Homo sapiens: one gene and its partner. The protein of the gene in region 1 interacts with the protein of each later gene in a biochemical or structural test. Each region holds a gene or a part of one and is shown on either strand. Other genes may lie near its edges.

Evidence for each region. Proteins that work in one complex are often made in the same cells at the same time.
Region 2: the proteins of FHL1 (region 1) and HIVEP3 form a complex in vitro, tested with the Homo sapiens proteins (one study listed by BioGRID).

What each region holds. Positions count from the first base shown.
Region 1 is NC_000023.11:136,200,040-136,207,066, forward strand, and holds part of FHL1 (four and a half LIM domains protein 1), read left to right. Parts: intron 1-4,862; exon of another isoform or gene 4,863-4,900; intron 4,901-6,367; coding exon 6,368-6,549; intron 6,550-6,976; coding exon 6,977-7,027.
Region 2 is NC_000001.11:41,579,919-41,586,945, reverse strand, and holds part of HIVEP3 (transcription factor HIVEP3), read left to right. Parts: intron 1-1,627; coding exon of another isoform or gene 1,628-1,640; 5' UTR 1,641-2,148; coding exon 2,149-7,027. Other genes in the region: uncharacterized LOC128125817, read left to right, coding at 1,628-1,640.

The DNA.
Region 1 (7,027 bases):
AGATACTGAGGTTTATTTAGGCACCTCTCAGCATGTTGGATGTAGTTCAAGAATTTTCTGAAAAAGGAAGCTTGTTTATTAAGTGAAAATGATGTGTCTTTTGAAGCAGGCATAGAAAGTCAGGCTACCCTTTTGGAATAAATGTCTAAAATTTTATCACCCAGCCACATTTCTAACTGTATTCTAAGCTTGTAAAACTTTAATTTAGTTAATTTTTAATTAAATTATTTAATAATGATGCTTTCTGTCTTAGAAAATCAGGGGACATTTATGTGGACCTAAGGTGTAGGTTAGACTTCAGCACCTTACACGTCATATAAGATGATTTTTAAAATCAGGAAATAGTATGTCATATTGCATTAGGTTCATAAGTCCATGAAAGCAGAGGAGAATAGGCCCAAGAAAGAAGTCCTTACAGAAAGGAAATCAGTGTGGTCCTGAAATAGGGTTGGTATGGACAAAATAGAGGCTCAGATAATTGGATCAGAAGCCACTTTCAGTGACTATCCACATACCAAAGTTTTAGAAACTTAGTTGTGGTAACATATCTCCATCTGTCAATCAACAGGCATATACTGAGTGATTCCTGTATACAAAGCCCTGGATTAGGTACTGGGGCCCCCTAGTGTATGAGCAGAACTTTCTGTCATAGAGAAACCCCACTTGTTAGCACTAGGGAATGTATCCAAGTCACTCGGCACCAAAGTATGTTAGCAGCGGGGAATCTGTGGGTCTGTAGCAACCTCATTTCTTGCCTCCTCAAGGAAGAACAAGGCAGAGGGAGAAGCCAAGGCAACTTTTAGAGCAGGAGTGAAAGTTTATTAAAAACTTTTAGAGCAGGAGGCCGGGCACGGTGGCTCATGCCTGTAATGCCAGCACTTTGGGAGGCTGAGGCGGGTGGATTACTTGAGGTCAGGAGTTGGAGACCAGCCTGGTCAACATGCTGAAACTCTGTCTCTACTAAAAATACAAAAATTAGCCAGGCTTGGTGGTGCACGCATGTAATCCCAGCTACTTGGGAGGCTGAGGCAGGAGAATTGCTTGAACCTGGGAGGCGGAAGTTACAGTGAACAGAGATTGCACCATTGCACTGCAGCCTGGGTGACAAAGTGAGACTCCGTCTCAAAAAATAAAATAAAGTTTCAGAGCAGGAATGAAAGTAAAGTACATTTAGAAGATGACCAAGCAGGCTACTTGAGAGATTCAAAAAGTGCATGGTTTGACCTTTGACCTGGGCTTTTATATGTTGGCATGATTCGGGTGTTATATTACTTCTCTCCTGATTCTTCCCTTGGGGTGGGCTGTCCGCATGCCCAGTGGCCTGCCAGCACTTGGGAAGTGCCGCATGCGTGGTGTTTACTGAAGTTGTGTGCATGCTTACTTTAAGCGATTTTTCCCTTAGCAGTAGAGCATTCCCAGAGGTAGGTCTTATACCAGTTAAACACCGCAATTTTGCCTCTTAGTGCACATGCTTGAGCCCAATTACCCACCTCCTGAGATCTCATGGGGACGTGGCTGAGCATCAGTTTCAGGTGTTTCTGTCTATTAGGGACCGTGTTTCCTTGGTGCCAGCTGCAACCAATTATTATTTTAGCGAGAGATAGTTTAACAACCATCTGACCTTCACCTGATGGCCGCCTGACATTCCTGGTTGGGTGGGGGGCCCTCTCTTGCCCTGCTCATGTCTAATACCTACTCTGGCATCCCTACTATGTACAGATGAGGGCTACACCGAGACATTAAAATTAGTCAAAGAGCTGCCCGAGGGCAAACATGCCCTCCACAAAGACAAGTGGTAAGGGAAGAAGCATGGTGATGATGTGTAGCAATTGTTTCCTTCAATGATGGCTGACACTCCCATTCCCGGATAACAGCAATAGGTCAAGGCAGACATATCTAGAAGTTCTGGAAGATTAAAGGCCTTCACATTTCATGTACTTAGAAATAGCTAAGGGGATAAAAAATTATTCCCTAAGAAATAAATGCCTAAGTACATGTAATTCTGTAAGGTTGAAGAGAGCCCAAAAGAAGAGGTAAAATGCTGGCTGGGCATGGTGGCTCATGCCTGCAATCCCATCAAGTTGGGAGGCCGAGGTGGGCAGATCACTTGAGGTCAGGAGTTCAAGACCAGCCTGCCCGACATGGCGAAACCCCGTCTCTACTAAAAATACAAAAATTAGCCAGGCGTGGTGGCATTCACCTATAGTCCTAGCTACTCAGGAGGCTAAGGTAGGAGAATTGCTTGAACCCAGGAGGTGGAGGTTGCAGTGAGCCAGGATAGCACCACTGCACTTCAGCCTGGGTGACAGAGCGAGACCCTGTCTCAACAACAACAAAGAGGTAAAATGCTATCTTCATTTTTCCCTATTCTCTCATTTCAAACAAAAGAAAGTGCAAGCTGGGATGGACGCGGTGGCTCATGCCTGTAACCCCTGTAATCTCAGGTGCGGTGGCTCACGCCTGTAAAATGCACTTTGGGAGGCCAAGGCAGGTGGATCATGAGGTCAGGAGATCGAGACCATCCTGGCCAACATGGTGAAACCCTGTCTCTACTAAAAATACAAAAATTAGCTGGGTGTGGTGTCACATGCCTGTAGTTCCAGCTACTCGGGAGGCTGAGGCAGGAGAATCACTTGAACCCAGGAGGCAGAGGTTACAGTGATCCAAGATTGCGCCACTGCACTCCAGCCTGGTGACAGAGCGAGACTCCGTCTAAAATAAAAAAGAAAGAAAGAAAGAGCAAGCTTTTCTCTCCTCATGAAGTCAAAGCTTGATAGTAGCTCAGACTCAGGGAGCCCACACTCAGGATCTTTGCATGTGTGTCTCAGCATTGTCATTTATAAGCTGGCTTTTTAGAGTTGTTTTGGTCTTGTGCACATCAGCACATCATTCATATTTTATACAAAATTGTGACGTGATCAGTATCTCCTCCAACTTCATCCTGAGCACACTGCGTGCATGAGGGTTTGAAATTGTTTTGTAACAAATAATCATAAATTTAGAAGTACGTGACGTAAGCTAATTCAGGTTGCCCAGAGTTCCACTTAATTTGATTTATTGCAAAACAAATACGAAAGTTCATGAATTTGACATAGACATTGTTAACATACTTTAAGTATTTCTAGCCTGTTTACTTATTATGCAACAAATCCAACATTCCTAGAAGTGCCTATTTTATCTAGACTAATTGTTTCCACACACATTAAAAGGACTCAAGTGAATTGTAGAAATGTATTCTAAAAGAATATGCCCTTTGAAATGATTCTCCATCTGGATACAGACTGCAGGTTTAAGTATAGAGTGGTGGGGAATCTAAGGTGTAAGGTGACCCTAGAGTTTTCAAACTCAGAGTGAAAAAATCTTGCCTAAAGCTAGGATTCAAAAATACCAAGAGATGAAACTCTTCTTATGGGTACTATTAACTTGGGGTTGATTCATTTAATTTTCCTTTTGCTTGGTTTAAGACCATGTACTATAGGAATGATACAGTGGCCAGTGACTTCATTGTCTGACATTTTCAACACCCTTTGTTACTTCTATCTTCACTGGTGAGCTGTGGATTATTTTATCATCTGGATGCTTAGAACTCTGAGCAAGTCATGTTCTAGAACTATGAGACTAAACAATGAAGAACTTTGCACTGGTAATATCAAAGTACTGAAAGTGTGTGGTTTTAAAGTGTGAAAAACATGGCAGTTAAGATCTCTCAGGTACTTTGAACCATAATGCAGTTTTCCTTCTCTTCAAAACCTCTACTTCTAAATGGCATTCATTGTGTTTTCTAGTGTTTTTTCTTTGGTATGACACTAGTTAACCTGTATTTCTTACCATAAAGCTAGGACTCAAATACTAAGAGGTTTGACTCACCTTAGGTGGAACTTTATATAGTACTTTAACTTAGAAATATTTGGAATCAATTTCTGCTTATAAAGGTATCAAAAGCAAGTGATACTAAAACGAGTAGGTTCAAAGTTGTATACTAAATAGAGACCTTGGTAAGAGAGAATGAGGGATTTTCAAATATGGTCCAGAAGATAGTCTCTGAAAGGCTAAACCAGCAATGGTTACTAGCCATGCAGGAAGCCAGTGCTGTCTAATCTTACAAATTCTGTTTTCCTGCCAAATGGCATTTAGGAGCAACTGATAATTTATTTCTTGCCACTTGCCGTTACTGGAGATTTATTTGGTTTCTCAACTCAGCCCTTAACAAGAAAGCAAGTCTTTGTTGAGGGCACAATATTATCAGTATGGCAAAGCTAAGACGAGGCTTCTGTGTGACACTGGAAAGACCAACAAGAATGGATTAAAGAGAGTGATTTTCCATATGCTGTCACTGGGACAGGTACTTTTCTCTGTAGACACACAGGCTAAAAGCAGTTTAAAAGCTTCCTTACCTAAACAGTACATAGTTCAAGGAGATAGGCCCTGTGTCCATTGCGTCTCTAGTTTTTGTTTCTAACCCATTATATAAAGAAACATCCCAGTTTGCTTTTTAGAGAAAAGTTCAAGTTAGAACCATTCTCTGGTCTTGCTAAGTCTCTTAATTGTGACACAACTGTCCTAAGCAACTGTCCTTGCACAAGAATGTCACTCATCTGCTTCATCTGCCAGCTCCTTAGAGATGAGGGGGGTCTGTGTGTCAGCAGGAGGCAGAAGGCCCTGTGGCTCATCCAGTGGCCTGATTTCCTTTGTTTGGAGGCTTGGTTCTGAGTGAGAGTTCAACAGCCTTTGCCCAGGCGGCTTCTCAAACACAGGGTGTGGTTTCCTTAGCTCACTCTCTGCTGTTTGGTTGCTCATGGCAACAAGATCCAAATAACTTGGACATGTGTTTGTATAAAAAAAACCTGGGAATGGAACCCAAAGTGAGACTTTGGGGCTTTCAGTTAGTGGAAGAGCTGCGGTGAGTACCAGGCAACTGCTCATTTATTTTCTCTCATTCTTTCTCTCTAAATTACGCTGGAAGTTTGCTAGCACAATAACCATGTTTGTGGATAGTTTTAGAAAGTAGTCTCAATTCTTGTATTTCCTGCACAAATGAAATAATTGCTATCTATTTACCCGTGCAAATTTCTTTTTCGGGGGAGAGGAACAAATTAGCATATGTTTAAAGAAGTTGAAAGCTAATAGAAACTCATATTTGGTACCTTTTGGGTGGCAGGATTCTATAGGAAATGCCTTGGCAAAGGGAGCTGCAGAGTGCCTTAGTAATGCTTGGGATTGCAGGCGTGTTGTCTAGGGCCACAGCCGGGGAGGGGACCAGGGAGGGAAGAGGGGTTGTTCATACGGAGGGAGTGGAAGGGATTCTTGGAATAATTTTTTCCAGACTCTATTTTAAGATTATAATTTTTAAGACAGCAAATATCCCAAATGGTAATACTGGTTACACTTCTATGAGCATATTGATTCTCACTTGCTTGACTCAAGGGAGGGTTTGATTTTGGTCACAAAGCCACCCGTGACTATGACAGATAATTCAAGGTTGCCAAACTTGCCTGTGCCAATTGACAAAGCCATTTATATAAGTCCTCTCTTGCTATATTGCTCTGGCCTCAAAAGGCAGTAAACTCTCTTGGACAAAACTCTTTAGGATCTATTCAGGGATTTAACACTTTTCTGCTAAATTGCAAGTAAATTTAAACATTTTAAACAAATTAACAAGGATTGCTTAGGTACCTGGTGTGGTACAGAATGAGCTGTCAGTTTCTATTCTGATGAATAGAATTTTATAGATAGGAGGAACGGGAGGCCTCCAGAGGATACTACCCTCCCTAAAAAGAGACGGAGGAAGAGCTGAAAGCGGGCAGAGAGGCTTCTTGATGACAACGTGGTGGGCTTAGAGAAGCTGCTGCCTGCAGGCGGGGCCCCTGCTTTCCTGCACCCCTTTGAGCCTCTGCCCCACACTCTTCCTTTGTATAAAACAACTGCTTCTTGCCTGCCTGCCCCATCACACCCCTCCACTCCATCGGGTCACTGCTCAATGGCACAATAGCACTGCTCAGCCATACCTCCCAGCATCCTGTCCCCTATCTGGTGACTTGGCCAACACAGGCTCTGATCCACTTGCCCCGCTCCGCATCTTTTGTGAATCAGCACAGTTGATATATCTGAGCAGGGGCTTCTACCATCTCCCCAGGGAATCACTAGCCATCGGCCATCTGGCCCCGCGGGGTGCTTTTGTTCCTGGAATCATAGTGAAGTATCTGTTGTCTTGGTGCCTGGTAGTCAGCTCGGCTGAAGGGGAAGCTGGGTCTTGGTCCTCAGACCCCATGGACTCCAAGGCAGCATTGTGCAGGTGCCTCTGGGAGCCACTGCTCAGGGTGCTGGGGCATTTCCTGTGGTCATTTGTCCTGTCTGCTTGCCCCCGCAGGTCCCTCCAGCTACAAGGTGGGCACCATGGCGGAGAAGTTTGACTGCCACTACTGCAGGGATCCCTTGCAGGGGAAGAAGTATGTGCAAAAGGATGGCCACCACTGCTGCCTGAAATGCTTTGACAAGTTCTGTGCCAACACCTGTGTGGAATGCCGCAAGCCCATCGGTGCGGACTCCAAGGTAACGGGCATCCCCATGTGCCAATGGGAAGGGCTGGGTTTTGGAGTGTCCTTTGCCCACAACCATGGCAGCAGCAGCTGGCTGTTAGGATTTCCCAGCATCACTGCAGCCACCTTGAGGCCTCAAGGAAGCCTCCTCCACTCCCCAGGCCACAGTGGCCCGAGCTGTTTAATGTGGGGCTTGACTGGATGGGCGCCAGCGCCCTTGCCAGCTCTTTTGATTGCATTCTAAATATTTCAAGAATTGTGAGATTTTTATCCTCACCTCAGCGTCCCTCCTATAAGAATAGTCACTGTGGGGCAGTCCCAGGTGTAAGGGACTGTGTCATCTCAGTGGTCAGTCCCAGGGAAATCAGCCTTATGGGAGGGCTCCTGCCACCACCCCCAGCACCCCTCATGGTGGCCCACCCTGTCTGCTTGGTTTCCAGGAGGTGCACTATAAGAACCGCTTCTGGCATGACACCTGCTTCCGCTGTGCC
Region 2 (7,027 bases), on another chromosome or scaffold:
TTTTTGCCTTATTTCCATTTTCTTTGTTCTGATTTGTTATTCTTATTTATGATTTTCTCATATTTATAGTTTGTCATTCTTCTATAAATATGGTTTTGTTATAGTTACTTTGAATTCTTTGTAGCACCAAGTAGAAAAGGCACACAAAAGGAGTGAACTTAGAGGATATGCTTTTTAGCTAAAAGATCAAATCACCTGCTCCTCCAAAGCATATCACAGTGTCCGAGGGCCCTGCCCTTTAAGAGACAATTATTTGAGTCTTAAAGACTTGTTCGTCTTCTGAGCACCTGCAAAAATGTAGTAAGTGGCATTTTCAAGTCTGTATCATCACACACCTAGTGAAACGAAGAGTGTGAGCATGAGGGGAGCCTGAGGGCAGGATGCCGGGGGTAGGGCATGCTCACAGGAGAAAAAGCAAGCACAGAGATGCTCATCACTCACCCAGGGCCTCGCCAAGGGATGCCAGGGGATGGACACCTGAGAAGGGGCTGGGGAACAAACTCTGGCCATGGGAGGCCTGGGTCCAGGTGGCAACACTGCCTGTTAGCAACACGGGACCTTCAGTAAGCCATCTTCATGATGTCCAAAGTCAGGTGGTTGGGTGAGATGGAGTCCATGGTGACTCCAGCCTTGGGATTCCGACCCTGTTCCTGGGGAGGAGGGCCCTGAGGATGCACCTGAGCCCAGGAAGCTGAGACTGCCCTGCTTGCAGCTGGCCCTAGGAGGAGGCACACACTTGGGGCTATATGCAGACCAACTTTGCTCCTCCACTTGAGGGCAATGATCCCCATATTTCCATGGCATCCCCAGGGCACTGACTGGACAAGGAAAGGCTGCAAAGCCAGAGGAACCTTCCAGAATGATCCTCCTGGCAATTGCTTGGATCAAGCAAATGGTCACAGCTGTGTCAGATTGTAAGTTCTCACAGGCTGTGGCAGTAGTTTGCAGTTTTGTCTTCAAACATGGGCTGGGGTGCGGGTTAGCAATGGGGTAAAAAGCAGTGAATGATGTCCCTTGTGGACACTTTCAGAACCCAGGGCCAGAGAGAAATACTAACCTGAGAATAATCTACCCCTTGGAAAACTCACCCCTGAATAAACCACAGGCACTTCCCTCCTGCACCAGCCATGGCCCCATCCAGAGTTCACCCAGCAGCATCTGCATCTCCAATGTCATTGGGCCCACTGCAGCTCCGAGGCACAGTCGAGGCAGGATTTGTTATCTGTTTTACCGATTAGGCAACTGAGGCTTAGAGAGCTTAGACCCACTCAGAGTGGATCACAAAACAGAGATGAGAGCCCAGGCCTCTGTCCCTAACCACCCTGCAGTTCCCAGAGCCCACTTTGCCTTCTGTTCTCAGCATCCCACATGGCCACAGTCCTCAGAAACACACTGGCATTCAGGTCACCCAACACTGACATGGGAGCGGGGGAGGAAAGAATTGCAGGGCTTGGACATGTGGAGCCGGAGCCTGTGGTTCTGCTTGAGTTTCCCTGGTTAACTTTTGAGGGGTCTCAGCCAGGTGTGGCACCGAGTCTGGGCTGCCCAGGCTGTGCATGAGTCCCAGTAACTCTGTCTTCTCTTTTGTGTGTGTGTATTTCTGTGTGTGTGTACATCTATCACACAGAAGAAGAGCGTGATTTCTCCTCCAAGGCCGTTGATCTCCAACCCAGAACTAAAGGGGAGAAGAGCCACCCCCAGCATCCAGCGTGGCATCTCTTGTGCCAGGACCAGGGATGACTGGGCCATGGACACAGATGTCTCCAACCTTCAACCGTTTGCATAGCACACGGGGGACTCGTGGGGGCCACCTGCCACTGCCAGCTGAAACAATACAATGGCAATACTGACATCCTTCATGACGTTTTCCCGACAGACATTCAGGCAGAAAGTGCTGGTGCGTTTTCTGTCTGCAAAGTAGAGGGCCATGCCTCACCAATAGAATAGCGTGGGCCCTGATGACCTGCTCCGAGTCCACTCACAGCCAGTGACACTTGCAAAAAACTCCCAAAGCCGTCTTGGGTTTGGCTCCCACAGCTCTTGACCAATGTGGCCAAAGCTGGACACCTCCTTGGGACACTGGGATTATTCATAAATGCAGCCCGCCCTGACTCTCCCTGAATAGCATCTGAAGTCTTTGTGAAGGTCATGGATCCTGAACAAAGTGTCAAGGGCACCAAGAAGGCTGAGGGAAGTCCCCGGAAGCGGCTGACCAAAGGAGAGGCCATTCAGACCAGTGTTTCTTCCAGCGTCCCATACCCAGGCAGCGGCACAGCTGCCACCCAAGAGAGCCCCGCCCAAGAGCTCTTAGCCCCGCAGCCCTTCCCGGGCCCCTCATCAGTTCTTAGGGAAGGCTCTCAGGAGAAAACGGGCCAGCAGCAGAAGCCCCCCAAAAGGCCCCCCATCGAAGCATCCGTCCACATCTCACAGCTTCCGCAGCACCCTCTGACACCAGCATTCATGTCGCCTGGCAAACCTGAGCATCTCCTGGAGGGGTCCACATGGCAACTGGTTGACCCCATGAGACCTGGACCCTCTGGCTCCTTCGTGGCCCCTGGGCTCCATCCTCAGAGCCAGCTCCTTCCTTCCCACGCTTCCATCATTCCCCCCGAGGACCTTCCTGGAGTCCCCAAAGTCTTCGTGCCTCGTCCTTCCCAGGTCTCCTTGAAGCCCACAGAAGAGGCACACAAGAAGGAGAGGAAGCCCCAGAAGCCAGGCAAGTACATCTGCCAGTACTGCAGCCGGCCCTGTGCCAAGCCCAGCGTGCTCCAGAAGCACATTCGCTCACACACAGGTGAGAGGCCCTACCCCTGCGGCCCCTGTGGCTTCTCCTTCAAGACCAAGAGTAATCTCTACAAGCACAGGAAGTCCCATGCCCACCGCATCAAAGCAGGCCTGGCCTCAGGCATGGGTGGCGAGATGTACCCACATGGGCTGGAGATGGAGCGGATCCCTGGGGAAGAGTTTGAGGAGCCCACTGAGGGAGAAAGCACAGATTCTGAAGAGGAGACTAGTGCCACCTCTGGTCACCCTGCAGAGCTCTCCCCAAGACCCAAGCAGCCCCTTCTCTCCAGCGGGCTATACAGCTCTGGGAGCCACAGTTCCAGCCACGAACGCTGTTCCCTGTCCCAGTCCAGCACAGCCCAGTCACTCGAAGACCCCCCTCCATTTGTGGAACCCTCATCTGAGCACCCCCTGAGCCATAAACCTGAAGACACCCACACGATTAAGCAGAAGCTGGCCCTCCGCTTAAGCGAGAGGAAGAAGGTGATCGATGAGCAGGCGTTTCTGAGCCCAGGCAGCAAAGGGAGTACTGAGTCTGGGTATTTCTCTCGCTCCGAGAGTGCAGAGCAGCAGGTCAGCCCCCCAAACACCAACGCCAAGTCCTACGCTGAGATCATCTTTGGCAAGTGTGGGCGAATAGGACAGCGGACCGCCATGCTGACAGCCACCTCCACCCAGCCCCTCCTGCCCCTGTCCACCGAAGACAAGCCCAGCCTGGTGCCTTTGTCTGTACCCCGGACGCAGGTGATCGAGCACATCACGAAGCTCATCACCATCAACGAGGCCGTGGTGGACACCAGCGAGATCGACAGCGTGAAGCCAAGGCGGAGCTCACTGTCCAGGCGCAGCAGCATGGAGTCCCCAAAATCCAGCCTCTACCGGGAGCCCCTGTCATCCCACAGTGAGAAAACCAAGCCTGAACAATCACTGCTGAGCCTCCAGCACCCGCCCAGTACCGCCCCCCCTGTGCCTCTCCTGAGAAGCCACTCAATGCCTTCTGCCGCCTGCACTATCAGCACCCCCCACCACCCCTTCCGAGGTAGCTACTCCTTCGATGACCATATCACCGACTCCGAAGCCCTGAGCCACAGCAGTCACGTGTTTACCTCCCACCCCCGGATGCTGAAGCGCCAGCCGGCAATCGAATTACCTTTGGGAGGGGAATACAGTTCTGAGGAGCCTGGCCCAAGCAGCAAAGACACAGCCTCCAAGCCCTCGGACGAAGTGGAACCCAAGGAAAGCGAGCTTACCAAAAAGACCAAGAAGGGTTTGAAAACAAAAGGGGTGATCTACGAATGTAACATATGTGGTGCTCGGTACAAGAAAAGGGATAACTACGAAGCCCACAAAAAATACTACTGCTCAGAGCTTCAGATCGCAAAGCCCATCTCTGCAGGCACCCACACATCTCCAGAAGCTGAAAAGAGTCAGATTGAGCATGAGCCGTGGTCCCAAATGATGCATTACAAACTGGGAACCACCCTGGAACTCACTCCACTGAGGAAGAGGAGGAAAGAGAAGAGCCTTGGGGACGAGGAAGAGCCACCTGCCTTTGAGTCCACAAAAAGTCAGTTTGGCAGCCCCGGGCCATCTGATGCTGCTCGGAACCTTCCCCTGGAGTCCACCAAGTCACCAGCAGAACCAAGTAAATCAGTGCCCTCCTTGGAGGGACCCACGGGCTTCCAGCCAAGGACTCCCAAGCCAGGGTCCGGTTCAGAATCAGGGAAGGAGAGGAGAACAACGTCCAAAGAAATTTCTGTCATCCAGCACACCAGCTCCTTTGAGAAATCTGATTCTCTCGAGCAGCCGAGTGGCTTGGAAGGGGAAGACAAACCTCTGGCCCAGTTCCCATCACCCCCACCTGCCCCACACGGACGCTCTGCTCACTCCCTGCAGCCTAAGTTGGTCCGCCAGCCCAACATTCAGGTTCCTGAGATCCTAGTAACTGAGGAGCCTGACCGGCCGGACACAGAGCCAGAGCCGCCCCCTAAGGAACCTGAGAAGACTGAGGAGTTCCAATGGCCCCAGCGCAGCCAGACACTTGCCCAGCTCCCAGCTGAGAAGCTGCCACCCAAAAAGAAGAGGTTGCGCCTGGCAGAGATGGCCCAATCATCAGGGGAGTCCAGCTTCGAGTCCTCTGTGCCTCTGTCTCGCAGCCCGAGCCAGGAAAGCAATGTCTCTTTGAGTGGGTCCAGCCGCTCAGCCTCGTTTGAGAGGGATGACCATGGGAAAGCCGAGGCCCCCAGTCCCTCATCTGACATGCGCCCCAAACCCCTGGGCACCCACATGTTGACTGTCCCCAGCCACCACCCACATGCCCGAGAGATGCGGAGGTCAGCCTCAGAGCAGAGCCCCAACGTTTCCCATTCTGCCCACATGACCGAGACACGCAGCAAATCCTTTGACTATGGCAGCTTGTCCTTGACAGGCCCTTCTGCTCCAGCCCCAGTGGCTCCACCAGCGCGGGTGGCCCCGCCAGAGAGAAGAAAATGCTTCTTGGTGAGACAGGCCTCTCTGAGCAGGCCTCCAGAATCTGAGTTGGAGGTTGCCCCCAAGGGAAGACAGGAGAGCGAAGAACCACAGCCCTCATCCAGTAAACCCTCTGCCAAAAGCTCATTGTCCCAGATTTCCTCTGCGGCCACCTCACATGGTGGACCCCCGGGAGGCAAGGGCCCAGGGCAGGACAGGCCCCCATTGGGGCCCACTGTGCCCTACACAGAAGCACTGCAAGTGTTCCACCACCCCGTTGCCCAGACACCCCTGCATGAGAAGCCATACCTGCCCCCACCAGTCTCCCTTTTCTCCTTCCAGCATCTCGTGCAGCATGAGCCAGGACAGTCTCCAGAATTCTTCTCCACCCAGGCCATGTCCAGCCTCCTGTCCTCACCATACTCCATGCCCCCACTTCCTCCCTCCTTATTTCAAGCCCCACCGCTTCCTCTCCAGCCTACTGTTCTGCACCCAGGCCAACTCCATCTCCCCCAGCTCATGCCTCACCCAGCCAACATCCCCTTCAGGCAGCCCCCTTCCTTCCTCCCCATGCCATACCCGACCTCCTCAGCACTGTCTTCTGGGTTTTTCCTGCCTCTGCAATCCCAGTTTGCACTTCAGCTCCCTGGTGATGTGGAAAGCCATCTGCCCCAGATCAAAACCAGCCTGGCCCCACTGGCAACAGGAAGTGCTGGCCTCTCCCCCAGCACAGAGTACAGCAGTGACATCCGGCTACCCCCTGTGGCTCCCCCAGCCAGCTCCTCAGCACCTACATCAGCTCCTCCACTGGCCCTGCCTGCCTGTCCAGACACCATGGTGTCCCTGGTTGTGCCTGTCCGTGTTCAGACCAATATGCCGTCCTATGGGAGCGCAATGTACACCACCCTTTCCCAGATCTTGGTCACCCAGTCCCAAGGCAGCTCAGCAACTGTGGCACTTCCCAAGTTTGAGGAACCCCCATCAAAGGGGACGACTGTATGTGGTGCAGATGTGCATGAGGTTGGGCCCGGCCCTTCTGGGTTAAGTGAAGAGCAAAGCAGAGCTTTCCCAACTCCATACCTGAGAGTGCCTGTGACATTACCTGAAAGAAAAGGCACTTCCCTGTCATCAGAGAGTATCTTGAGCCTGGAGGGGAGTTCATCAACAGCAGGGGGAAGCAAACGTGTCCTTTCACCAGCTGGCAGCCTTGAACTTACCATGGAAACCCAGCAGCAAAAAAGAGTGAAGGAGGAGGAGGCTTCCAAGGCAGATGAAAAACTTGAGCTGGTAAAACCATGCAGTGTGGTCCTTACCAGCACCGAGGATGGGAAGAGGCCAGAGAAATCCCACTTAGGCAACCAGGGCCAAGGCAGGAGGGAGCTAGAAATGCTGTCCAGCCTGTCCTCAGATCCATCTGACACAAAGGAAATTCCTCCCCTCCCTCACCCTGCATTGTCCCATGGGACAGCCCCAGGCTCAGAAGCTTTGAAGGAATATCCCCAGCCATCTGGCAAACCTCACCGAAGAGGGTTGACCCCACTGAGCGTGAAGAAAGAAGATTCCAAGGAACAACCTGATCTCCCCTCCTTGGCACCTCCGAGCTCTCTGCCTCTGTCAGAAACGTCCTCCAGACCAGCCAAGTCACAAGAAGGTACGGACTCAAAGAAGGTACTGCAGTTCCCCAGCCTCCACACAACCACTAATGTCAGTTGGTGCTATTTAAACTACATTAAGCCAAATCACATCCAGCATGCAGATAGGAGGTCCTCTGTTT